Homo sapiens: one gene and its partners. The protein of the gene in region 2 purifies or fractionates together with the protein of the main gene of each other region. This does not show direct contact. Each region holds a gene or a part of one and is shown on either strand. Other genes may lie near its edges. The genes, in order: GRPEL1, UBA1, MZT2A, ARHGAP1, IARS1, NMD3 and CIAPIN1.

Region 1 (3,335 bases), on a different chromosome or scaffold from region 2:
ATACTGTGGCCTGTTTCTTGGTATTCCGCCTCTCTTTGTGGTAATGTGCTTTGTTGGTTCTTACCCTTTCCGACCTGTAAATGCCTGGGCTCTTGGGACTCAGTACCAGACCTCTTCTCTCCCCTTGCTGTGCTCCCTGGGTGACTTACATACTCTTACGGGCTTAGTGGCATCCACACACAAGTCTCAGCTTCAAACTCGGATCTTCCGAGTTCCAGTCCCCTAAATCTTACTGCTTGCTTGACATCTGGGCTTGGATGTCTCAAGGGTATTTTCCCCTCTACTGCACTCCTTTCTTCACATTTTAGTGAATTCTAAATTTAGTAAATTCTGGGTCTCATCCCACAAGTAGCTTTTGAGAGTTTTGTGTTGTTTTTTAAAGTTATTGAGCCATTGGAATTCTGAGGCGATTGATTTGACAAGTTACTAAATAGCCTCCACATCAGGTCAGCAGTGCTCAGTTTGGAATTGCCCTGTGCGGTTGGTATGGAGTGCAAATGATCTTCTTTAACTTCATCCAGGCATTCAAGCCTTCTGCAAGGACTTGTTGGAGGTGGCAGACGTTCTGGAGAAGGCAACACAGTGTGTTCCAAAAGAAGAAATTAAAGACGATAACCCTCACCTGAAGAACCTCTATGAGGGGCTGGTCATGACTGAAGTCCAGATCCAGAAGGTGTTCACAAAGCATGGCTTGCTCAAGTTGAACCCTGTCGGAGCCAAGTTCGACCCTTATGAACATGAGGCCTTGTTCCACACACCGGTTGAGGGGAAGGAGCCAGGCACAGTGGCCCTAGTTAGCAAAGTGGGGTACAAGCTGCATGGGCGCACTCTGAGACCCGCCCTGGTGGGGGTGGTGAAGGAAGCTTAGCTGCTGTTGATGGGGTGGGTGTTTTTAAACTCACTTGATGTAACTCTCAAGGCTGGTTCATTGTTTCTCATCTATGAGTACGTGTGACCTTTTCCCAAACCTTATTGGAAACCTTAAGTAACCAGTGGCTAAACAGAAAAGCCGGTTGCCCAACTGCATTAATGAACTCTAATTCGGGAGTCTGTTCCCTTTTAGTGCCACGCGTTGAATAGTTCCACATACTTTCAGAAGAGCTCAGCAGGGCCCTGCCTGGTCTCCCGAGCATCATGAGTAACGTGTCTGCTCAGACTCTGCTGACACCAAAGTATTTTAAACAAATAAAAGGTCTTGGGGAATTCTGTTTGGCTACCTGGGCACGCCAGTCTGCACCATGTGTCCCTGCGGCGCATGAGTGACTGGCGTATTTAGCCCGTCACATTTCATTCGCTGAAGGAAAGGCAAGAGAGTTGAAACATTTTTCTTACTTAAAAAAAATGATCTTTGTGAAGAACATAGTGAGTTCGTTTGTCTTCAGTCAACAGCGGCTGAAACTGACCACTGAGAAATGGGTGTGGGCACTGACAGTTCTCCCCCATTATTTGGCCAGGAATTGAGCTTGGCTTGGCAAAGTTCCTTTTACCCTGTTCTGTTCATCTAAATGCAGACATATTTAAATCATATTCAACTAGTTACTAATGACCTCAAGTTGTATTCCCTGGCAAAATGGACTTTCTCAAAATAGGACTGCACGCTTGGTGTACTTTAAATGTTAATGTTTAATTTAAAATTTTTATTTAAGAGGATTAAAGCCCTAATGTTTATTTTCCTACTTTCTGAAAACAATTTTGTGTCCTCTCATGGAGATCCTTGCCGCTGAGGCAAGCATGGCTTAGCCTTCCCATTCTCTACTCCAGCCCAGAAGCTGTCAGCTTGACACGTGCGTGCGTGCACATTCACGTACACACATATACAGGCTTCTACACAGAAAGGGAGAGCCACACTCCCCCAGTGCAGCTGCAGCCCGTCCGGTAAGAATACGAAACACCCAGGAGCCACAGCAAGGGCACAGGATTTGCAAAATCATCTTGCCAAAGGGCTGTTCCTCATTTACACGGTCATCCAGGGCTTAGAAAAAGGCTGAATGATTGGCGTCTGTTACAAAAAAGAGAAAAGAACCTTTCGCTGCCTTTGCTTCTAGAATGGAAGATACTTGTGAAAGCCATTTGCTGCACAGGAAAGATGGGGCAGTTTATTTCACTTCTAATTTTAAAAGACGCAAGTAATGGTCCCATAATACTTCATCTTGGGATACCATTCCCAAACATGTTCCACCTTTAAGATGCCTTAAGTTAATTTGGTCAGAAACAACTAAAGGCAGCATCGTGTATTGAAGAAAACATGACTGGGAGCTCCAGCGCTGCCTGTTTTCACGCTGTGGGGTTGTGAGTGCATCATCACCCCTGGAGCTCCCGAGTTAAATGGAGGCTAAGAAAAGTAATTTATCAACTCATTTCTGTGAATGTTTGCAGTCTCCTACCGTCTCAACTACAGCTGCAGTTGCTAAAAAGCACTTAACTCGTAACCTAGAGGCAATATAGCTTAAGTAGCAAAATATTTTTTTACAGTAAGCTTCAGTCATCCATAGTCACTATAAGTTGGTTATCATCTGAAATGCTTAGAACCAGAATTGTTTCAAACTTGGGGGGTTTTCGGATTTTGGAATATAGTCAAGCATGGCTTAACCACAGGGATGTGTTCTGAGAAATGCGCTGTCAGGCAGTTTTTCCTGTGAACACCATGTGTACCTACATGGACCTAAAAAACAGGTGGTGGAGCCTCCTCCACACCTAGGCTATATGGTGTATGTAGCCTGTTGCTCTAGACTGGAGGGCACGTTACTGTACTGATACTGTAGGCAACTGTTAACACAATGGTATCTGTGTATCTGAACATAACATAGTAAAGGTACAGTGCAAACTGTGTTCTAATATGTGGCCCCTCATTGACTGAAAAGAGATTCTCTGCTTGACTATTTGCATTGTATTTGCTGGTTAAGTATCCCCAATCCCAAAATCCAAAATGCTCTAAATGAGCATCTCCTTTGAGCACCATGTAGGCACTCAGAAAGTTTCAGATTTTGCAGCCTTTCAGATTTGGGGATACTCAACCTGTAATAGGAAAATGTCTTTTAATTATGTGCATATTTACAGTAGGAATTAAAGATTTGTTTAGCTACCTTCTAGTAGTTACTGGATTTAGCATAACTGCAGCATGAGTGAAGTGTCACGTGTGAACAGTGAAAACCAGAACTGGAAGTCTCAGAGGCATCTGAAAAGTCGGCCTGGCTTCCTGAAAGACTCAGACCCATTTGGCTTTCTCTGGCTGTACTGCTGCTTTGAGGGAGGAGAGCACCTGGCACGAAAGGGTCTCTGCTTAAGAGAAAGCAACTTTAGGTCGGGTGCAGTGGCTCACGCCTGTAATCCCAGCA
Region 2 (3,500 bases):
AATGACAAGGCAAGGAGATAACTAAGTAATAGAGGCCACTACACGTGCCCAGGGAGGAACTCACATCCTCAGGTCAGTGAGTTCTGACCACAGACCTTGGCTTCTTTAACCCTGCCAGCAGCCCCTTGAAGACAGTTTCATTTGTCCCAGCTTTTGGAGAAAATGAGGCTCAGAGGAAATGAGATCTCTACCCCAGGTCAGTCAGAGAGTCAGTAAATGGAAAATATGGTTCACCTTTGTCTCTACTAACTCACCAAGCCTCTTGCTACCCAGGTTGGCTCTTAGCATTCTAAGCAATTCACCTGGCTATCTCAGGGGCTCCAGCCAGCCTGCTGCCTCCCCTCATCTCCCATTCCTTAGCCCTGTGGACTGGGCCCTGAGCCCAGGGGCATTTGGCAAACAGTCCCCCACCAGCTGCATGCCTCTGGGCGAGTGAATGGGGTTCTCTAAGCCTTTCTTTTCCCATTTGTGATTTGGGCATAGGGTTATCTGGGTCATGGGGATTGTTAAGATTAGACAAAGCCCTTTCCTCTTTGATTGACACACAGTATGCTCTTGGTAGATAGTAGGGAGCTCTTGTCATTGTGGTTGGTGCTAGTGACAAGTGCCAAGATGGAATCTTAGGTACATTGGGATACTTAGTGTCATAAAAGTCTCAGTGTGGGAGGACTTGTGTGAACAGAAGACTCAGTGCCTAGAGGAGCACTTGGGGTGAGGGGAAGTGACGCTGGGTCCTCCCATCTCCAGCATGTGGACCCAGTCACCCCCACCACCAGATTTCACTTCCACAGCAGGCTTTATTGTTCTGTCTCTGGGACCTAGCAGGTGACCCTGGGCAAGTTACTTCTCATTTGTCCGGCAAGGACACTAAACTCTGCCTTGCTGGGTCAGGGTCATGGAGGGGATGAAACGTGATAACACGAGGAAGCAGCCTGGGCTTCAGAGTCAGCAGATCCTGGTCTGGTCCCAGCTCAGTGTGTGGGAACCTTGGTCACCGAACGTCCCTGAGTGAATTTTTTTCCATCACTTTAAAGTTGGGGGTATTATTGATAGCAGTCCAAACCCCACAGGAGTACCCTGAGGACAGAGTGAGACGAGGTTTAGAGAAGTGCTTACTATGGCATCTGGCACAAGGAGGACTCCTGATCAATCTAATACTCATTTATCATTGTGGTTAACCTGTTTAAGGGACTCCGCATGCAGATGAGGCTTGGGATGTGTTTGTTTTCTATCTTTTTGCAACCTCTTTTATTGGTCTGTGTCGGTTTTCCCCTCCCAAAGCTGGGGGCAGGGTTGGGCTTTATAAAACTTGAGCCCCTCTGGGGACTGGGTTCTCAGCAAGTTACCGCTCCTGCCATCATGCCACCCTGATGGATGTCCAAGCCTCACTTCCCTCCTGCACTCCCCGCTCCCGCCGCCATCCCTGGGATTAAGGGAGAGGAGAATGGCTGCTTGTTACTGCCTACCTACTCTGTGCCAGGTTCTATGCTCTGTGTTATTTATCATCTCGATAACCCCGTGGGGAAGGTAAGTGGTATTATCACCCCTGTTTCACAGGTGAGAAAACTGAGGCCTGTGGCGGTTAATTATTACTGTTAGTGCGTGGCAGGCTCAAGATTTGAAACCAGGTCTGTCCTGAATCCACATCCTTCCCCTGACCTCGACACAAGTACATTCTTGTCATTCCTTTCACTCCAGGATTGGAGTCTCTCCCTCATTATGCTGGGCTGGGAAGAAGCAAATGGCTTAGTGGTCAGCAGTGTGGATTTGCAAATCAGACCACCTGGGTTCAGATCTTAGGTCTGACAGCTGTGTTACCCTGGGCAAGTCCTCACCTTTCTGTGCCTGTCCCCTCTTTGCTGTAAAATGGGGGTACTAATACTTAAGTCTTCCCTTCCCCCACAGTTGCTACTAACAAACAGAAAAACGGTACCCATGTGCTCCAGGGTCACCTCTGACCTTTTTTTCCTCCAGATGTCCAGCTCGCCGCTGTCCAAGAAACGTCGCGTGTCCGGGCCTGATCCAAAGCCGGGTTCTAACTGCTCCCCTGCCCAGTCCGTGTTGTCCGAAGTGCCCTCGGTGCCAACCAACGTGAGTGTCCTCTCCGTGGAGACTGGCAGACGAGGTGGTGGGTGGGAAAGTCTTTTGTATCACTGTCTGTCTATCCATGCTCCACTCCTGTGTGTCTCCCTAAACTTGTTCTTTTCCTCTATTCCTAGGGAATGGCCAAGAACGGCAGTGAAGCAGACATAGACGAGGGCCTTTACTCCCGGCAGCTGTAAGTGGGGCCAAGGCCGGGCTGAGGGGTGTGGAATGGGACATTGAGAGGATAAGGTTGGGTGGGGCAGGCCCTGACCTAGAGTACCCCCTAACCTGGCAGGTATGTGTTGGGCCATGAGGCAATGAAGCGGCTCCAGACATCCAGTGTCCTGGTATCAGGCCTGCGGGGCCTGGGCGTGGAGATCGCTAAGAACATCATCCTTGGTGGGGTCAAGGCTGTTACCCTACATGACCAGGGCACTGCCCAGTGGGCTGATCTTTCCTCCCAGGTACCTCTTCCTAGCACCCTTCCCCCTTTCCCCCTTCCCGAGGCACCACTGTTCCCGGTGCCACAGCCATTTCATCTTTTTCCCTACTGCACACCCTTACAGTTCTACCTGCGGGAGGAGGACATCGGTAAAAACCGGGCCGAGGTATCACAGCCCCGCCTCGCTGAGCTCAACAGCTATGTGCCTGTCACTGCCTACACTGGACCCCTCGTTGAGGACTTCCTTAGTGGTTTCCAGGTATCTTGGGGGTACTACCCAGCCTTCTGCCCAGTTTTCTCAGAGCCCATCTCTGGTTTATTCAGTAGTGTTCAATATTGATTTAATGGGTCGGCCTGAATGTCAGGTTTTGTGCTGGGGGACTAGAGTATGCAGGCAGCAGTTAGCCCCTGGCCCTGCCTTTTCTTTTCTTCTTTTTTTTTTTTTGAGACGGAGTCTTGCTCTGTCGCCCAAGCTAGAGTGCAGTGGCGCGATCTCGGCTCACTGCAAGCTACACCTCCTGGGTTCACGCCATTCTCCTGCCTCAGCCTCCCGAGTAGCTGGGACTACAGGCGCCTGCCACCACGCCCGGCTAATTTTTTTTTGTATTTTTAGTAGAGACGGGGTTTCACTGTGTTAGCCAGGGTGGTCTCGATCTCCTGACCTTGTGATCCGCCCGCCTCCGCCTCCCAAAGTGCTGGGATTACAGGTGTGAGCCACCGCACCCGGCCTGGCCCCGCCTTTTCAAGTGGGGAAGATGTGTACAGACAGTACAGCATAGTGGTTGTGGGCACAGACTGTAGAGCCATACTGCCTTGCTGCAGGCCTCCAGCCTTGGTAGTGTGACTTCAAGCAGGTTGTTTCATCTCCTGTACCTTTGTTTTCCTGTTTGTAGTCAGTGCGTGGTAGCAGCACTGACTTCATGGACTTTTTGTGAGGGTTAAACACGTGGAATTGCAGCTGGCATATAAGGAC
Region 3 (4,105 bases), on a different chromosome or scaffold from region 2:
ACCCGTTTGTTTTTTTTGTTTCGTTTTGTTTTGTTTTTCTGACAGCGACAGCCCTTGGGCAACGCTAATCATTCCAAGCAAATTCTGTCATGCCAAGACCTCCCTTAACAGCACGCGCCCACTTGTTTCCAACTCTCCTGCGAATTGGGCTTCGGGAGCCTCCGAAACCAAGGCTCGGAGATGTGGAGCGCACAGGGGAAGGGTCGAGCTGGGACCCACACCCGGCTCTTCCTCCCACACCGCCTGTTGAGCCCAAGGCTCAATTTCAACACAAAGCTCTCCTTCCCTCAATTCCTTCAACGACGGGTAACCTTCAACGAACACCTACCGGACCAGAACAGAGTGTACGAGCGGCGCGGGAAGGTGGCACAAAGGCATGGCCCAGAGGAGTGGCAGGAAGACTCAGCCGGGGCCCTCCACTCCCCAGCCTGCCCGGCCTGGGCAGAGCCGCCGGGCCGCCCGAGTCCTGGGGCTCGCGGAGGAACGGAGATGGCCTCCGCAGGGGCTCGCGGAAGCCCCCAGGGCGTCGGACCGTCTCACGCGCGCGTCCCGCGCCACTCACCTGTGGGACCCATAGCGTCGCCCGCTTCAGAGGTGGAAGCCGCCATTCCGCCACCGCGCCAAAACGTCGTCATCAAGCTGCGCGCAGAGCCACGCCCCGCGGCCGGGCGGGAAAAGCGCTTCTACCTCTTTGGGCCGTTACCTCAAAAGGTACGTGCGCAAAGCGAAGAAGGCCGGCCGGCCGGCCAGGGAGGGGAAATGGCGAGGCAGGAGTGCGGGGGGAGGGAGTGGTCCTTAGCTGAATGCGCCTGCGTTGTGGCGGCCTCTGGCGCCCCAAGGTAGGGCTCACGCACTTTCTCCCTAGCAAGGAATGCGCGTGCGCGTAAGCAGGGTTGTTGATTAGTGCCCCCCACCCCCCCCGAAGAGCGACCCCTAGTGGTGCACCGGTGCGGACCAGAAAATTGCACGCTTTCTTGAAACAGGTATTGACTGAGCGCCCAATGTATGCCTGGCACTGGGCTGGGTGCTGCCACCTAAGCGAGCACGACCAATGCAAGTCTATCAGGGACGCCCTGACCGCCAAGCAGCTGGCCCCTGCAGTCCGCCATGCCACTCCCGACGCCTAGCGCGCCGCTCAGCACACCGTGAGCGCCCACTAACTGTTGGGCTCCAATGACGCCGAGGAGGCGGCCCCGTCCCCGCGCTCCCGCCGCTCCCGCCAGGGCAGCCCGGGAGGCCAGACGCTGGCGCTGCAGGGAGAGGGCGGTGGGCGCATCCGCTAGGGGGCGCGGCGGGGCGGGGCGCACCTTTCGGCGGGCCTCGCGGATGGCGGCGCAGGGCGTAGGGCCTGGGCCGGGGTCGGCGGCGCCCCCGGGGCTGGAGGCGGCCCGGCAGAAGCTGGCGCTGCGGCGCAAGAAGGTGCTGAGCACCGAGGAGATGGAGCTGTACGAGCTGGCTCAGGCGGCGGGCGGCGGTATCGACCCCGACGTGTTCAAGTGAGCGGGGCGGGTGGGGGCCGCATGCTCGCCAGACACCCCCGACCTCTGCTCTCCGGGTACGCCCGGCCCGCTGGTCGGGAGGAGCCCCCGCTGCCCCCGCCCCCGTCCTTGTCCGGTCTTCAGGGAGGTGGCCGCGCCGGGCGGAGAGGGCTCACCGGCCCCGCGTCTGTCCCCGCCAGGATCCTGGTGGACCTGCTGAAGCTGAACGTGGCCCCCCTCGCCGTCTTCCAGATGCTCAAGTCCATGTGTGCCGGGCAGAGGCTAGCGAGCGAGCCCCAGGACCCTGCGGCCGTGTCTCTGCCCACGTCGAGCGTGCCCGAGACCCGAGGTCAGAGCTGGGCCCGCTGTCCCTGCCCCAGTGGCGGGGGTGGCGGGCGGGGAGGGGGCAGGCGCGGCACAGCGGCGGCGTGGCCCTGAGTGGCCAGGCCTGTCTGTCGGTCGGTCTAGGCCCAGCACCTGCAGGGCCCATCCGTGGGCTCTGCTCCTGGGCTTCGCTGCCAGCCTTAGGAGGCACGTCCAGGTCAGGTGGACGCAGAGTGCGTGCCCCAGGGTGGTCCAGGCTGGGTAGGGCTCCTCCGCTTAGCTCCTCCCCACCTCTTCACTCAGGCCTTCATCCTACAAAGTCGGGAATCAAGACGGTTTGGGGCTGGGCGCCGTGGCTCACGCCTATAATCTTTGGGACCCCACGGCGGGAGGATCCTTTGAGGCCATGAGTTTGAGACCAGTCTGGGTGACAGGGTGAGATCCTGTCTCTAAATGTTTTTCAAAAGACAGTCTCGATCTCTGTCCTGTGGTATACAGCATCCAGGGAAGTGCCCAGGGAGCAGGGCAGGCAGACGTCTTCCTGCCTTTACCCCACCTGGGCCCAGTTCCTGCCTCTGATGATTGCAGGAAGAGAGTTAGACGCGGAACTCCCAGGGTGCAGAGGCCTGCGGGGTCTGAAGGGCCTCCTCCCTCTCCAGTGTGGTGACTGGGCTGAGGAGATGCTGGGACTGAGAGTGTCATGGTGGAGCCTCCGTCCCTGCTCATCCTCTCCGCATGTTGCTTCTGCTCCCGATGGCTCTCTCTGAAATGCAGCACAACCTCCCAGGCCAATGGAAGGAGGCCCAGAGCTGGCTCCCTGCCTGGAAGCAGGAGGAGACCCTCACAGGCATCATGAGAAGGCGTGGAAAGCAGGCTGCCTTCATGGGGGAAGTGCCAGGGCCTGGGCACCCACGCCCGCTGACCCAAGAGGGCCCGGGCACCTGCGTGCTGGCCTCTTCACTGACCCTCGCTCTGTCTGCTCTCTTTGTGTCTCTCTCTGACCTCCAGAGGCCTCCTTTCTCTCTGCCAGGAACAGTAGCCCCCCTGCAAGGCCCTCGTTTTCCTCCAGCCCGCAGCCTGCGGCCTCTCTGGTTATGCTCCACAGCCCAGCTGCCACACACTCACCTCTCTCTCCAGGCCCCCCGGGTTCCCTCCGCCTCTCTTGCTGCCTGTTCTCTCCTTTTGCAGGTTGCGTTTATTGGCTTATCTCTGGGGGTTGGTGCTCTTCCTTGTTTTCATGGAAACTGCATGGCCCCAAGAGGCCCAAGCAGCTTTGAGCTGCAAGGGCAGGATCATGCAGGCCACCGCTGCCCTGCCGCTTAGCCACAGGGCACTATTTCTGACTCGGTTTATTAGAGACATGGTGTGGCAGTCTCTAGACCCCACAGTCGGGCTGGCATCCGGGGACAGGACCAACATCCCCACACCCCAGAGGCGAACTAGTGGTGAGTGTAAAGAGCCCCTCTCCAGGGGAAGACAGCCAGCCGGGTGCAGTGTGCTCTGCTGGAGAGCACAGCCCCAGGCGTGACAAACGCCTCGGCCTCTTAGAAGTTGTCCCCTACCTGGACAGGAAGTCTGGAGGCTGAAACAGAGACTCCCACCTTCCCAGAGTCTGCCAGGCAGTGCCACACAGATGCCATGTGCTGGTCCCATGGCCACACTCCAGCACTCAGCCCCCTTGCCCGCCTCACTCCTGAGTTGGGACACTTTCCAGGTGTCACCAGGTGTGATCAGGGGCCTGTGAGAGCCCAGGGGTCTTTGGTCGCGCCTCCTGCATGAGCCTCCTGACAGCGGCCACCTCACTGCCACCCAGAGCTCAGGCCCAAGAGAGGGTGGAGAGGGCCTGAAGGACAGGCCTGGAGTAGGGGTGTATGGACTGCAGGCTGAGATGAGCAATTGAGGGGCAAGTGTCCAGCAGGAGGGAGAAACTGGGAACAGAGTTCTTGTCACTCCAGGAGATGTTGCTGCTCACTTAGCACTCACTCAGGGCTCTGGGTGCCAGGCCTAGCTCTCAGGGCAGAGGGCGTGGCAGGGAAGTGAGATGATCACACTCAGTCCAGTGAGAGGCAGTGAGGAAAACCACCAGTGAGACCAGTGTGCTGGCTCACACCTGTAATCCCAGCACTTCGGGAAGTCAAGGCAGGTGGATTCCTTGAGCTCAGGAGTTCAAGATCAGCCTGGGCAACATAGCAAGACCCCATCTCTACAAAAAATACAAAAACTAGCCAGGCAGGGCCCGGCGCGGTGGCTCACGCCTGTAATCCCAGCACTTTGGGAGGCTGAGGCGGGCGGATCTCGAGCTC
Region 4 (3,500 bases), on a different chromosome or scaffold from region 2:
TCCATGGGGACACCATCACCCAGAAGGTCCCTGAGCCACCACTCAGAGGCCATTGCCCAAGGCCAGACCCTCCCGCAAGCTCCTTTCCCTTTGGGGCCTGGGTGTGTCCCCACACAGCCTCCCCCACCCCCATCCTACCTCCCATAAATCTTCTGCTATTTCCGACTCCCAGGCACCACCAACTCCCAGCTCCCCAGGGTGAGACTGCAATTAAGCTAGCCCCATCTGGCCTCCACCGAGAGCCCTTCCTGATCCACAGCCCCAGAGGTTGCAGTCCAAAGAGGACAAGCACAGCGAGCCAGGACGGACACCTACCTGGCTGGGCCCCCTCAGGCTCATCGTAGTCTAGGGAAATAGAAACAAATTGCAGCTCTGTGCGGGGGTTGTGGGGAAGGAGGTGTCACCCACGGAGGTGGGGAGGGGCAGGCTCCCCCAGCTCTGCCTTGACCAAACAGGCCAGGATGATGTCAGGACAGAGACTCCTTCACATCAGGTACCCCCCAGACTCCAGTCAAGTTCAGAACCTTCAAGGTGACTTTCCCGTGCCCAATTCAGGACCAGACTGGGGAAAAAACTCTCAGCTTTGCTTCTGCAGGGGGTGAATGAGGCCAGAGCCAAGGCCCTCAACCCAGATCAGGGCAGGCGCCAAGAATACAAACGCCATGGAAACACCTTTGACGTTCGGGGCAATCCTCTCAACTGCCCCCTCCCTTTCCAAGCCCAGCACCCCCATAGCCAGACAGGCTTCTTCCAGGGCCGGTGTCTGCCAGGTTCTCCTTGCCCACGCCAATGCCTCAGAGCAGGGCCATGCTGCCACCCTGCTTATGAATGCCTGGCCTCACCAGCAAGGATGGACAAATGTTAGGGAAAAGATAAAGGATCCTAGATTCCAGCTGCTCCTTCTAAAGTGGGGCCCTAAGGGCAGCAACCACCTCATCAGCCTGACTCCCTGGCTCCTGGTTTCTTCTGGGTCCCCCCTTATGAACAGGAGGGAGGGAGCTCCCTGAGACAGAGACCTAAGCGGGGCTCTGTACCCACTCTCAGCAGGGCAGCATATCTGCCAGGAATCTGGTGCTCCAGGGAGCCATGTGCCCCCTCCCCATTTTTGGAAAGAGGCTCTGCCCATTCCAGACTTCCCTAGGGCTACAATTTCCCAGGAAGGACTGGCACTCCTCATCCTCCCCAGTAACTGATAGGGTGGAAAAGCCAACATTAGGGTGGAGGGGTAGGAGGGCAATAGAACGAGGGGAAGGGAAGGCTACTTATTCAAGGCCAACTGTGTTCTGGCTCTGGGCTAGGCCCTGACATGCATTCATTATTGTAACCCACAAGGAAGAAATTAGAGTTCAAAGAGCAGAGCTGGAGATCAAACCCAGGGCTTTCTGACTTCAAAGCCACTAGGCCACATGGCTCCCCACATGCCAGGAGCACCAGGGCCAGCGGTCAGACTGCAGAGAGGCCCTTCCCCTGTGGTGTGAAGGGCTGACTTCCTGAGGCCAGGAGCTCTGAGGGTTAGGAAAATAGTGTTGGGTGTGCTTACCTGCCACCTCCACGATCTGGTGCCGGGCGATGTCATAGTATGGGTCATCCCACTTCAGGTGTGTGACAAGTTCCGGGGAGCTGCTTTTGGAGTCATCTGAGGAACACAGCAGGGTCAGGGGACAAGCCAGGGGGCTGGCACCATGCTCTGCCCCACAGGCATGCTGTCTGGCCCTTCCCCCAGTAAGGCCCATGCTCCCAGCCCAAACCTGGGACTGGTCTGCCCCATCCTGCCCTCCTGGCGTCTCCCTTCAGCAGAAGGAGTGCTTCCCCCTCTAAAGCGCCTGTAGCTGCCTGAGACCAGACACAAGCCCACCTGACTTGGGGAAGTCAGGCATTTCATCCGAGGGCCAGTTCTTCTCATCGATGGAGGCCAGCTTCAGCTGGTTCAGAGCCTCGCTGGTGTCATCCAAGGTCAGATCATCCTGCAGCTCTGAGAGCGGATCCATGGCCAAGCCTGTCCCAGACAGCCTTGCCCTGCAGAACCTTAAGAGAAACCTGGGAGAGAGGAAGACAGGTGGCAGGTCAGTGACCTGCTCTTTTCACCTTCTGCGACCTCCACCGCGTGCCCTCCTGCCCCCACCATTCCCTCTCCCAGGCTCCCTGTCCCTATTCCTCAACACTCCTCATCCCCGCCAAGAGCTCCACGTAGCTCTGGGTTCTCCTGGCTCCGTGGCTCAGGCGTGTTGCCAGAAAAGGCAGCTGGGGCAGAGGATGGCACAGCTCAGCGCCTCCCTCCAGGCCCTGCAGCTGGGGAGGGAAGAGCTGTGCCAGGTCCTGTGCCGCCCGCCACCCAGCTGGCTCAGTGATGCAGTCCCAGCTGTAGAGGGCAGAGGTCCACGCCCCTCGCCTCAGGAGACCTGGACACAGAAGCCTCCCAGGCTCTAGCAGTTACAGGGGTAGAAATGTTGTAAGAATCTAAGGAACATGCTGGGCACCGTGGCTCACGCCTGTAATCCCAGCACTTTGGGAGGCCGAGGCAGGCGGATCACCTGAGGTCAGGAGTTCAAGACTAGCCTGGCCAGCATGGTGAAACCCCATCTCTACTAAAAATACAAAAACTAGCTGGGCGTGGTGGCAGGCATCTGTAATCCCAGCTACTCAGGAAGCTGAGGCAGGAGAATCACTTGAACCCAGGAGGCGGAGGTTGCAGTGAGCCGAGATTGTGCCATTGCACTTCCAGCCTAGGCGACAGGGCAAGACTCCATCCCAAAAAAATAAAAATAAAAAAATAAAAGCTATGGCTGAGGGGCCCAGCTGGGCTTGCTCCAGGACAGGAACTAGCAGCAGGGGATGTGGAATCGCCTGCCAGTCATTGCAGACAGTCTGCAGGCTCCTAGGGGCGTCCAAGCCCACTCTTACTCTGCAGGGTGCTCCTGACACCAGTTTCAAGGTGGAAAGGTTGACGGCCCTAAGGATTGGAGGGCGCAGATGGGAAAGGGGGATGCTCGTGATGTCTGGGGTGCTGAGATGAGGAGGTCACCAGCAGAACAGCAGCTCCGGCAGGCACAAGGCAGACTCGACCACCAAGCTGGGTTTCTGTAGGTCTGGAATCTGGCCAGAAGGCTGCAGCCGCATGCAGCCTGGGGGTAGGCACCTCTGCCCTCAGCCCTAATGGGCAGCAACTCCCCCTCCTGCCACAAGCTCCCCACATGAGGGAGGGCAGTTTTTAGTTCAACCTATTCAGTCTAACCCCAGGGAAGAGGCTGCTCCATGTCCAGCTGCATTCCTGGAGCCCCAAAACTGACATATATGGTCAGAGAATCAGCAGGGCAGATAAGGAGAGCAGACAAGCCCTGGGGGTGGGCAGGAAGAAGAGGGGGAGAGCTGCCATCCCAGAGCCACAGACTCTGGGCTCTGAGGCCACTTGACAACCTCCTGCACACATCACATCACAGCCAAGGGCCCTGGATGGTGAGCCCTCTCCCTGTGCCTAGCAACAGCCACCCTATCACCAGGGC
Region 5 (3,500 bases), on a different chromosome or scaffold from region 2:
GATCTCTTGAAGCCTCTGTGGCTTTGTTATTGTGAAATTTTAATCAAGAAGGGGCATAATACACGGGTAGTGGGGCAGCTTGAAGAGGAGGGGAAGCTGATTAACAGTGTAGCTGCTTCTCCATAGGGACCATTGTTGTGGAAGGCCATGAATTGCACGATGAAGACATCCGCCTCATGTACACCTTTGATCAGGCCACAGGTGGGACTGCGCAATTTGAAGCACACTCAGATGCTCAGGTATTTTTCTGTTTCCTAGAACATTTCTTTACCAAGAGATGAGAGCATAAGAGGAGAAAGTATTTGCCTGTGCCTTTCCTGATAATGTTGACAGCTTGTCTCAGGGTAAAATAAACCAGTTACTTGGTTTAGATTGGCTTTATTAAACTAATATATTATTATGCCCTTAACATATGCATTTGTTTAGTGAATACATAAGTAAGCATTTTGTGATTTCTACATGTCAGTCATTGTCCCAAGTGTGGGGTTGCACAAAAATGAACCCTTCAAGGAATGAGTCAGTCAAGGACACCTGAAATTAAGCCAGTTCTTAGTATTCTACCTGATAAGTTATCTGGTAGAAATAAGTACACAGAGGGCTCCTATCCAAAAATAGGTGTAGGGTGAAAAGTGGTCAGGGAACACTCTTTTCAAGAGAATATACAAACTGTTTTAGATTCCAGGATCAATATTTTTTGCCATATTGGAGAAGAGACTATCTCTTTGCAGTCCTGACCAGACATCCCCAGTCAGCATAGTTGTAAGATCTCGCATGTGGGTTTGGGGATATTGCAGGGGTCCCTCTGTGCTTAGCATACCATGTGCAGGGGAAGGTAGAGCAGCACCTCCATGAAAGGAAGGTCGACCTCCTCAGTCCTTTACCCAGGCGCTTAAGTTAGATGTGTACAGAACTCTACGTGGGAAGACAGTGGCAAGGAGTCGGAGGTATCGTAGCTGGGAAAGAAGGCAGGGAGGAGGTTTCTAAACACTGACAGTGGGCAGTTCTTCCTCATTACAGCAGATGTTAGGGGCCTGAAAAGTTGTCCACCTTACAAAAGTGTCATGTGATGCTTCTGAGTTTCTTGACATGGCTTACATGTTGTAGTGGCCCTGCACTGACTGGAATTTTGAGTTTATCATGCATTTCACTACCTCTGATGCCTTTATGAAGTGAGTCATTTCTTAACTTCTCTGTTTACTCAAAGGTAAATGAGATGATGCCTAATGTACAAGTCTTTTGTAGAGTATATTTTACTCTGCAACATGCTGTGTAACAGAAGCGATAGTGTCATTATTGCTACATCATAATCAGCAACCTTCAGAATAGATGAGATAGAAACATTAACCTTAGCAAAAATATGGCAGTTTAAGTCACAGAAAGTTTTGTGGTCCATTGTAGAATTTGTCTTGAGTCGTTCTGACAAACCTGAAGATCACAGGGGTCATGGTATAGGAAAGTCACTTGGAGTTGACTGCGCTGAGGCCGTTGATCCACTTGTTGTGGCCTGAAAAGCTGTGCTGCTCCAAGGGCTTCATGATTATTGATCTTACTTATTAGAAGAGTTGATATTACTTCTTAGATGGCCAAAAAGCAGAGTCATGTGAGGGACTCTGATAAGAGGTGGTCCCAGGGCATCTCCTGTGAGCAGCACCCTACAAAAAAACAAGAAACAAAAACCTGCACACCTTTCTCCAGAGACAGAGGACTAGCTGATTATGAAGAAGTACCTGAATGATAAACTAGATTAATTTTATTGCTTTTGCTCATTTGTGTGAAAAAATAGTGCTGCATTATAGACTCTCCAGATTTAAATAACATTTTGCTGAGTTGGGAAGAAGTGTTTCTCCTTATTTGATTGTCATGGTGTGCACTGTTCATTCCCACAGGCTTTGGTCCTCTTAGATGTCACTCCTGACCAGTCAATGGTAGATGAAGGAATGGCTCGGGAAGTCATCAATCGCATACAGAAACTTCGCAAAAAGGTTAGTTTGTCAGTTAAGAATAAGCTACTGTTTTGGCTTTTTGTTTGTTTTGGTTGTTTGGAGAAGATAGGAGAGGCAGGTAATATAAACCATAGTGATCAATGCATAACAATCACTAATCCATAGTCCATTTGGAATGTATTCTGCAGAAAAGTCACTCCTCTTCCTCTCCCCACGTGTTCACTCCCAAGTCGTAGCTTTCAGCCAGCCTGTGCCTTTTCCCATCCTTTTTTTTAGCTCCGTTGGGCTTCTACAGAATATCCCCTGTGACTGGAGCAGAAGGTAATCAGAGCTGATAGTGTCTTTGCAGAAGGGCAGAGGTGCAGTCAGCATAGACAGGCTTCTAGCTTAGGGGAGATTCCCGGATTTGGACAGAGTTGGGTAGTTTTTCCTTATTAGAGAGCTGAGGAATATGCAGGGAGCTCATCCTGGAGCGCAGAGGGGCTGCAAAGCCCCTGCTAGTGAGAGAATCAGGAATTTCTTGCCCTGTAGAGGGCAGTGACAGCTAACATACATCTTTCTTCCCAGACGGTTCAAGGTCTGAGGAGGCTGTTCCAGCAGATGAGTGGGTGCTTGTGACCTCTGAATCAGTTCAGAGCTTTGTAAGTGGGTTCTAAGTAATTTCTTGGTTTCAACATTCATGAGGTACTGATTGTTCTAGGAAAAGAAACATGCCCTATCCCCCAAAGAGTGGTGAAAAAGACACAAAGTTAATCATGTACTGAGTGCAGTTAGTCTTACGGATCACCCAGCAGGGAGGGAAGGGTGACTGCCCTTCTGTGATGATTCAGCATGGGATCTGTAGCCCTTGTTCAACAGTACCTTCCTTCAGTTCTGATTAATAGAATGTACTTCCCTTTTAAATTTTTCTGTGTGTGTTTTCAGTGCAATCTGGTTCCAACTGATGAAATCACAGTGTACTATAAAGCAAAGTCTGAAGGAACATATCTGAATAGTGTTATTGAAAGCCACACAGAGTTCATATTTACCACCATAAAGGCTCCCTTGAAACCATATCCAGTTTCTCCATCGGATAAAGTCCTTATTCAAGAAAAAACACAGGTGAGTCCTGAGTTCCACTGAACTACTACTAAAGGGTTTCAGATTAGGTTTGACTTTGTGTACTCACGTGTTGATATTCTGTCCCACAGTAGAGATCGGCACAGCACTCTGTCTTGAAGTATTGCTCTGGACAGTAGTGGGTAGAGTCAGAGAGTGGAAGCTCAGAAAAGATGGAGCAGGGAGGGAAGATGGAACTGTTTTCACAACAGTTCTCTTGAGGAAGGTAGCCAGGAGGGTACATGAGCTTTGCCCGGAAATAAAATGGCCTGTTTTTTCTAAAACTAGAAAAGGCAGTGTGTGGATTCTGGTAATTATCATTAAAAGTAAATAGCAATTGGCTTGAAAAACATTTAACTCTTCTGGTAGTGGGTTCTCCATAAAAGTACAGTACAAAAAAAGAAAGATTACAATAGCATTTCTGTTGTTACATCTAGGAATTTTAGATATACTTATGAA
Region 6 (3,500 bases), on a different chromosome or scaffold from region 2:
CTTTAAAAAGTGTTTGTAGTGGGGTGCTACTGGCAACAATAGTAACATTTAATAGTTACTTTCGAGGCCAGCATGGTGGCTCACGCCTGTAATCCCAGCACTTTGGGAGGCCGAGGCAGGCAGATCACGAGGTCAGGAGTTCGAGACCAATCTGGCCAACATAGTGAAACCCTGTCTCTACTAAAAATACAAAAAATTAGCCAGATGTGGTGGTGTGCGCCTATAATCCCAGCTACTTGGGAGGCTGAGGCAGGAGAATCGTGTGAACCCGGGAGGCAGAGGTTGCAGTGAGCCGAGATCACACCATTGTACTCTAGCCTAGCCCAGGTGACAGTTCAAGACCCCACCTCAAAAAAAAAAAAAAAAAAAAAAATTCCTTTTGAAAAACCTACTCACAAGAATTTTCTGAAAATGAGACCTTTAATGAAAACATACCTATGAATACTGATTTTAGCTGTTTAACTTACCTTACTCAGAGGGGCTTTGATTTTTTTCAAGCACAAAGCAAGAAGTTCCCTGGATTCTAAAGCACACTGTATCCAAGTTCCTGGTGGTTGAAAATACCTAAAAGAGAAGATAACATACTGAAATCCAACATCTGTCAGGAAACACAGAAATTTCCATCTGAATACACAGATATAACCCAAATTATTAACCAGGCATAATAAAACCCAAGGATGATATGAAGCACTTAACTCAAACATATTTTAATGGTTCCAAAACTTTCAACTAGACTAGCAGCTTTAATTAAAAAGGTAAAATTCTGACTGAGAAAGTCAATCTGAAATAACCTACTAAAGTGATCTTATTACTTTAATCACCAAATCACCACTAAAATGTCCAAGAGTCTCTTAAAGCTATGCTCTGAAAAACAGGTGAGAATCATCTCAAAATGGCATTAAAATGGTTTATTATGTACTTCTAAAATGCCTGAGAACTGCTTATTTTTCACAAAAAAAAGGTACATTAGTACCTCACAACACTATAAATCAGCAATAGTTCAGTCTATTCATCTACATTTCAAGTCCTTTTCAAATTGTAAATTGTAAAACAACATTTAAAATCTTGGGTAAAACCAGACTAAAACAAAACTTAAATCTCTTACATATGTGCTTTAAGGTTTTTAGTCCTGCCTACCCAGGACTTAGCACTATGCCACATACATCTTATAGTAGGTGTTCAATAAATGCTTGCTAAATATAAAATACTTCCAAACATGTTATGTGAATGTCTTTTTGCCATACTTGTTACATAACAGAAAGTTTTGACTTTCACTTTTCAAGGTTCAATCAAAAACATTACACAGGTCTCCCTTTGTTTATAAGTACATATTTATTTCGTATTTTTTTTTCCTTTTTTCTTTTGAGACAGAGTCTCGCTCCATCCCCCAGGATGGAGTGCAGTGTATGATCTCGGCTCACTGCAACCTCTGCCTCTCGGGTTCAAGCGATTCTCCTGCCTCTCGAGTAGCTAGGATTACATGCGTGCCCCACCACGCCTGGCTAATTTTTGTATTTTTAGTAGAGACAGGGTTTCACCATGTTGGCCAGTCTGGTCTCGAACTCCTGACCTCAGGTGATCCACCCGCCTCAGCCTCCTCAAGTGCTTGGATTACAGGCGTGAGCCACCAAGCCTGGCCTATGAGTAAACGTTTAGAGTTAGAAAGGGCTTCACATATCACCTAATAAAACCCTTCATTCTGATGAGGAAATTGAGGCCCAGAGATGATAAACAGCTAAGAGTTTCAAACAGCTAGTTTGTGAGGAAGCCAAGACAAACTAAGTCTGTTTAGTTCTTTATCAGTACTTTTCTAACTCCACCAGGCTTTTAATAGCAAATATTTATAAAAGATTAAGCCTCACACTTGCTAAGCTTATACACTGTAAACTCCCTGAAACAGTACACAGTTTCATGTGTTTGTGTATATATATGTATATATACACACACACACATATATATTTTTACATATATACACACACACACACATATATATACATGTATGTAAATATTTTGGGGAAGAGATACAGTTTTCAAATTCTCAAAGGAGTCCATGAACCACCCCTCTAGAGATACACACTCAAAAAGTTAGCGTCTTAATCCATTTTGGAAATAACAGGCATACACTTTTACACTCATTAGGCAGTTTTGTGTTACTCAATGGCCTAATAGATGTAAGTTGTTTATGCTGACAAAGAAAATCAAGAGGAATGAAACATTAACATTCAGAAGAAGTCTTCTTCCTTCAAATCCAATCTTTATTTCAGACCATTCCAGATATAATTTATTGAGCTTCTTTTCCATCAACAATAGTTATTTTAATTACACGTGAATGTTATGAGTTTTTAAAACATATTACTAAATTACTCCAAACATAAGCTTTTTATCATACATGGCTTCTAATAACTAAAGAAAAAAAAACCTCATAATAACAATATGTCCTCAATAATCTGCTCTCACCCTTACAAACATCAACTCCTATTAACTATATACATCAAATCTATTAGATCCTTTAACAGAAGAACAGATTCAAATACATTTACACTATCTTTACCAGATTAGAAGGACACACTAGAAAAGTACACTATAAAATTGCAAATTCTAAAATCTTTGGCGACACCAACAGAAAATTTAAACCTTAATTGCATGCACTTTACTCCATATACCTTCGTGTAATCTCAGCATATCTCGGTGGTTCTCTAAATGTAAATTCCAACTTTAAAAAGAGCAAAATTGTACCGCACTGTACCTTTGACATTGTTTGCAGAACGAAATCGAGACTTGTTTCGGAATACCTTGGCTGATGTCCACTTTACTTCGCAAACAGGCCACACAAATATTGGCAGGATTTGGACTTATCGGAACACCACACTCACAGCACAAGCTTTAATAAATAAAGGATAAATTTTTCACATTAGATTTTTAAAATACACTAAATTTTTTTTTAGATGCCAAACAAACAAAAGCCTTCAAGTTAGGCCACAGCATCTTTGCCCTTTTCAAAAAAATAACAGAAACAAAGCAACCTGGGCCAGCCAGTGGCTCACACCTGTAATTCCAGCACTTTGGGAGGCTGAGGCGGGTAGATCACCTGAGATAAGGAGTTCAAGACCAGCCTCGCCAACATGGTGAAACCCCATCTCTACTAAAAATACAAAAATTAGCCAGGCATGGTGGCGCACGCCTGTAATCCCAGCTACTTGGGAGGCTGAGGCATGCATATCAAACCCAGGAGGTGGAAGTTGCAGTGAGCCAGATCACGCCACTGCACTCCAGCCTGGGTGACAGACCAAGACAATGTCTCAAAAAAAAGAAACAAAAAAAAGAAACAAAGCAATCTTCAAAGATGCAGTAGATAAAGAATAACCCTGTAATACAGGGGCAAAAACACCAAAAATGGCTATAATTCTAAAAATCCTCAATATAAGGCCGATGTCCTAAAGGTTCTAGAAGGTCAGTACTGTCCAACAGAATTTCATGCCACGACAGAAATGTTCTATTCT
Region 7 (3,500 bases), on a different chromosome or scaffold from region 2:
AAATCCCAAATCCTAACAGTGCCAAAATGTGCTTTAAGCCTTTTCTCTTCACACCAGTGTCATAACTCAGAAGCCTATAGGCCAGGCAGACAGCAGCAATATGAGAGGCTGCTGAGGGAGACAGAAGTGGGAGGAGGATGAGGGAAGTACCGTGTGTGCTCTGTCTACAGAGGGCAGCCACTACTCAAGCTTCAGCTGGTTATCATGCTGGGGAAAGTGGACCCAGATTGCCATATTTTCCAAATTCAAGAACAGAAGGGAAAAAAATCTGTGTTTTCACTTGAAATTTCCTGATTTGTAAATGCTGGCAGCTTTTACATTTAAAAAACACTGATGATTAACGCTGATGATGAACATCACTGATTAACTTTCTACAATCCTTCCCATCCATTTATAAAAACAAATGTGAAGACACCAAGGTCTCGCTCTGATGCCCATGCTGGAGTGCAGTGGCACAATAGTGGCTTACTGGTAGGGTTTTGAGGGAGAGTGAAATTAGATACATGGCACAATTACGGCTCACTGCAGCCTCGACCTCCCAGGCTCAAGTGATCCTCCTGCCTTTGCCTCCCAAGTAGCTGGGACCACAGGTACATACCACCATGCCTGGCTAATTTTTTTTTTTTTTTAATTATTTGCAGAGATGGTCTCCCTGTGTTGCCCAGCCTGGAAAATGTATGTTCTAAAAATAGTACAGCACCGCGATGTCTTCAGCATGAAGCCACTGGAGGCAGCATGGCAGGCTCCAGTCACCCCAGCACTCACCAGTTCTTACAGGCCTTCCTCTTTTTCCCTTCCCCACAAGAAGCAGCCCGCAGGGAAGCTGGATCTGGCTTCTTCAAATCTTCTGGATCCAGCAGCTCATCTGAGTCAATGAGATCCTGGAGAGTGTTCAAAGCAATGAGTGATACAGTCGTGGTCTCTGCTAATGAAAAGCTAAAGTGACTGCAGGCTTCGAGAGGAAACTTGGAGTCCAGGGTAAAGAAGGTGTCCACCCTGTCCTCCTTTTGGTTGATCATCATGTTCAACCTGACCACATGCTCAAGAGGCCAACGGTGAGTTAAACTACATCCACAGAAGATGCACTAGGATGCAAAGGAATTAGAAACAAATTTACATGAGAAAAAGCTGTATGACTGGCCAGCAATGTGTAGAGAATATACACATGTTGGGGGTTGGGGGCAGGAGTGGGGAGAAGGGAGGGAACAGGCAGAACAGAGAAAGAGAGAAGTGTTTATGAAGAGTCACGTGAAAAAGGGAATAAAATATCTTTTACATAATCCCAGATAAAAATCAAATAATTATATATACCTTTATGTAATTCTTTGTAAATGTGTAGACACTTAGTCTGTAAACCCTATGAGAGCATGAACCTCACTTATTTTGCTCACTACTCTAACTTCAATAGTAGAGGTGTAGAAATGAAGAACTTTATTACAGACATGGCCAAAGATAGAAAATAGTGCTTTTTAAAGCATGGAACAGTCAGCAACTTGCCCAAAGGTGCCAATAAAACTATTTAAGCTGACAAAATCTTTTCAGGTTTACACATGCCCACAAGAGTTTTCAACATATCGTATGAAGTGAGAACAAGAAATTATGTGGGGAAAAAGAGATGCTAAAAAATTTAAAATGCCACCAACATGGCCAAGCGCAGTGGCTCACACCTGTAATCCCAGCACTTTGGGAGGCCGAGGCGGGCAGATCACTTGAGGTCAGGAGTTTTGCGACCAGTCTGGCCAACATGGTGAAACCCCGTCTCTGCTAAAAACGCAAAAATTGGCCAGGTGTGGTGGCACATGCCTGTAATCATAGCTACTTGGGAGGCTGAAACATGAGAATCGCTTGAACCCGGGAGCAGAGATTGCAGTAAGCCGAGATTGTGCCATTGCACTCCAGCTTGGGCAAGAGAGCGAGACTGTCTCCAAAAAAAAAGCCACCAACATGGAGTTTCCTTCTAAATCAAAGATGTGACAGGCATAGTCACAAATCTGGGCTTTAAATACGTTCACACCTACAAGTCCAGAAAGGTCACTATAGCTGTTCACACCCAAACTGGGGCCTGAAAGAAAGCAATCAAGTGACAATGCTGCCAGCTCACCATGCTGTCGTCCTCCATATCGTTGGCTGAGAGGGTCCACAGCTTGGCAGCAGCAGGGTCCACAGCAGGTTTCACTGAGTCCAAGCAATAAAAGAAAAAACTCCATAAACACAGTCAGAAACTATTAATTACAAACATACATAAATGCTTCCTGCTGTGTAGAAGAGAACACACTGGCCTGGGAGGCAGAAGATGTGGGTTCACAGTCCAGCTCTACCCCTCTGAGAGGTCTGACCTTGGGCCAACCACTTGCTGATAGTTACAGAAGTCACCATTTGCTAAGCTCTTGCTTTGCACCAGGCACCATATTAAGCACTTATATACATTATCTAACTTAATTCTGCTGACAACCTTATGAGGTAACTATCTGTCATCCTACTTTTACCGCTGAGGAAACAGGTTTAGACACTTAGGCTGGTTCCACAGGCTGCAAAGCCTGTCTGATGCTTTTAACCTCCATTCCATATTGCTTCCTCCTCGATACCTTAGTTTCCATTCTATAACATGAAGTTAAATTGTACTTCCTATGTTACTGCAGGTGTTTTGAGGATTAAATGAGAAATGTGTCAAAACCTTCAAAAATAGCAGAGCTTTAGCCTCATGTAAACCTGCTACATACAAGAAAATAGGCTCTAGAGCTGCTGGTGGCAAGGTAACACCATCAGTGGCAGACAAACCTCACACTTCCTGGTTCTCTGTCTAGTCAGGAGAATGCAAGGAAGAGGCAGAGAGCTGAGGCTCGGATGCAGTGTGGGCAAATCCTCGCAGGCCCTTGGGGTAAGAGTACCCTCTAGTGATCATTGTCACAGCTGGATGCTCATACCTTCCACAAGGCCAACTGTTCTAAGCTATTCCTACCCATTCTGGAACCATGAATCGAAAGGTTAGATTCCAAAGGATTTCTTGAAGATTTAGGTTAGACAGTCAAAACCGTACAAGTGGGAATGTACCAGTAAATATCTGTTAATGTCTGCATACCTCACAGCTGGGTCAATTCAGGCATTTAAAAATAGGGATAGGAAGGATGAGGATGGAGCTGTGTGTGTGTGTGTGTGTGCGTGCGCGTGCGTGCACGCGTGTGCTTGTACACAATTTTCTAGTCAGAAGAAATATAGTTTTATAAGTGTCTTAGCATCCTCAAAGTAAGAACAGCTGATTTTCCTGGCATGGGGAAAAAAGCACATGAGAACAGGAACAGGGCACTCTCATACACCATTACCACTACACTGTGAGGTCTTCTGAGGAGAAACGTTAATTCTGGGACCTGGAAGGACCTCATTAATTAAACTGTGTGACTCAGTCCTGTAAAATTAGGAGGCCTCGGTATCTTCTGGTGCAGAAGAAGGAGCTGAACTAGATAATACCTATGTATTATTTCAGTTTTGGATCCTAATATGCC

What was found.
Region 1: the proteins of UBA1 (region 2) and GRPEL1 fractionate together in Homo sapiens (co-fractionation; one large-scale study listed by BioGRID). This does not show direct contact.
Region 3: the proteins of UBA1 (region 2) and MZT2A purify together in Homo sapiens (co-immunoprecipitation; one large-scale study listed by IntAct). This does not show direct contact.
Region 4: the proteins of UBA1 (region 2) and ARHGAP1 fractionate together in Homo sapiens (co-fractionation; 2 studies listed by BioGRID). This does not show direct contact.
Region 5: the proteins of UBA1 (region 2) and IARS1 fractionate together in Homo sapiens (co-fractionation; 2 studies listed by BioGRID). This does not show direct contact.
Region 6: the proteins of UBA1 (region 2) and NMD3 fractionate together in Homo sapiens (co-fractionation; 2 studies listed by BioGRID). This does not show direct contact.
Region 7: the proteins of UBA1 (region 2) and CIAPIN1 fractionate together in Homo sapiens (co-fractionation; 2 studies listed by BioGRID). This does not show direct contact.

Annotation. Positions count from the first base shown.
Region 1 is NC_000004.12:7,058,395-7,061,729, reverse strand, and holds the end of GRPEL1 (grpE protein homolog 1, mitochondrial precursor), read left to right. Parts: intron 1-521; coding exon 522-868; 3' UTR 869-2,835; downstream 2,836-3,335. UniProt on the Homo sapiens protein: Essential component of the PAM complex, a complex required for the translocation of transit peptide-containing proteins from the inner membrane into the mitochondrial matrix in an ATP-dependent manner.
Region 2 is NC_000023.11:47,196,829-47,200,328, forward strand, and holds part of UBA1 (ubiquitin-like modifier-activating enzyme 1), read left to right. Parts: exon of another isoform or gene 1-162; coding exon of another isoform or gene 163-196; exon of another isoform or gene 197-1,374; coding exon of another isoform or gene 1,375-1,527; intron 1,528-1,562; exon of another isoform or gene 1,563-1,628; intron 1,629-1,974; coding exon 1,975-2,091; intron 2,092-2,219; coding exon 2,220-2,278; intron 2,279-2,380; coding exon 2,381-2,549; intron 2,550-2,651; coding exon 2,652-2,786; intron 2,787-3,500. UniProt on the Homo sapiens protein: Catalyzes the first step in ubiquitin conjugation to mark cellular proteins for degradation through the ubiquitin-proteasome system.
Region 3 is NC_000002.12:131,489,598-131,493,702, reverse strand, and holds the start of MZT2A (mitotic-spindle organizing protein 2A), read left to right. Parts: upstream 1-1,305; 5' UTR 1,306-1,326; coding exon 1,327-1,496; intron 1,497-1,678; coding exon 1,679-1,827; intron 1,828-2,466; exon of another isoform or gene 2,467-2,543; intron 2,544-2,810; coding exon of another isoform or gene 2,811-2,990; intron 2,991-4,105. UniProt on the Homo sapiens protein: Required for the recruitment and the assembly of the gamma-tubulin ring complex (gTuRC) at the centrosome.
Region 4 is NC_000011.10:46,694,120-46,697,619, forward strand, and holds part of ARHGAP1 (rho GTPase-activating protein 1), read right to left. Parts: intron 2,038-3,500; 5' UTR 1,989-2,037; coding exon 1,856-1,988; intron 1,637-1,855; coding exon 1,541-1,636; intron 1-1,540. UniProt on the Homo sapiens protein: GTPase activator for the Rho, Rac and Cdc42 proteins, converting them to the putatively inactive GDP-bound state. Cdc42 seems to be the preferred substrate.
Region 5 is NC_000009.12:92,241,698-92,245,197, reverse strand, and holds part of IARS1 (isoleucine--tRNA ligase, cytoplasmic), read left to right. Parts: intron 1-126; coding exon 127-239; intron 240-1,886; coding exon 1,887-1,982; intron 1,983-2,867; coding exon 2,868-3,044; intron 3,045-3,500. UniProt on the Homo sapiens protein: Catalyzes the specific attachment of an amino acid to its cognate tRNA in a 2 step reaction: the amino acid (AA) is first activated by ATP to form AA-AMP and then transferred to the acceptor end of the tRNA.
Region 6 is NC_000003.12:161,224,311-161,227,810, reverse strand, and holds part of NMD3 (60S ribosomal export protein NMD3), read right to left. Parts: intron 2,882-3,500; coding exon 2,747-2,881; intron 565-2,746; coding exon 468-564; intron 1-467. UniProt on the Homo sapiens protein: Acts as an adapter for the XPO1/CRM1-mediated export of the 60S ribosomal subunit.
Region 7 is NC_000016.10:57,430,386-57,433,885, forward strand, and holds part of CIAPIN1 (anamorsin), read right to left. Parts: intron 2,176-3,500; coding exon 2,102-2,175; intron 882-2,101; coding exon 766-881; intron 1-765. UniProt on the Homo sapiens protein: Component of the cytosolic iron-sulfur (Fe-S) protein assembly (CIA) machinery required for the maturation of extramitochondrial Fe-S proteins.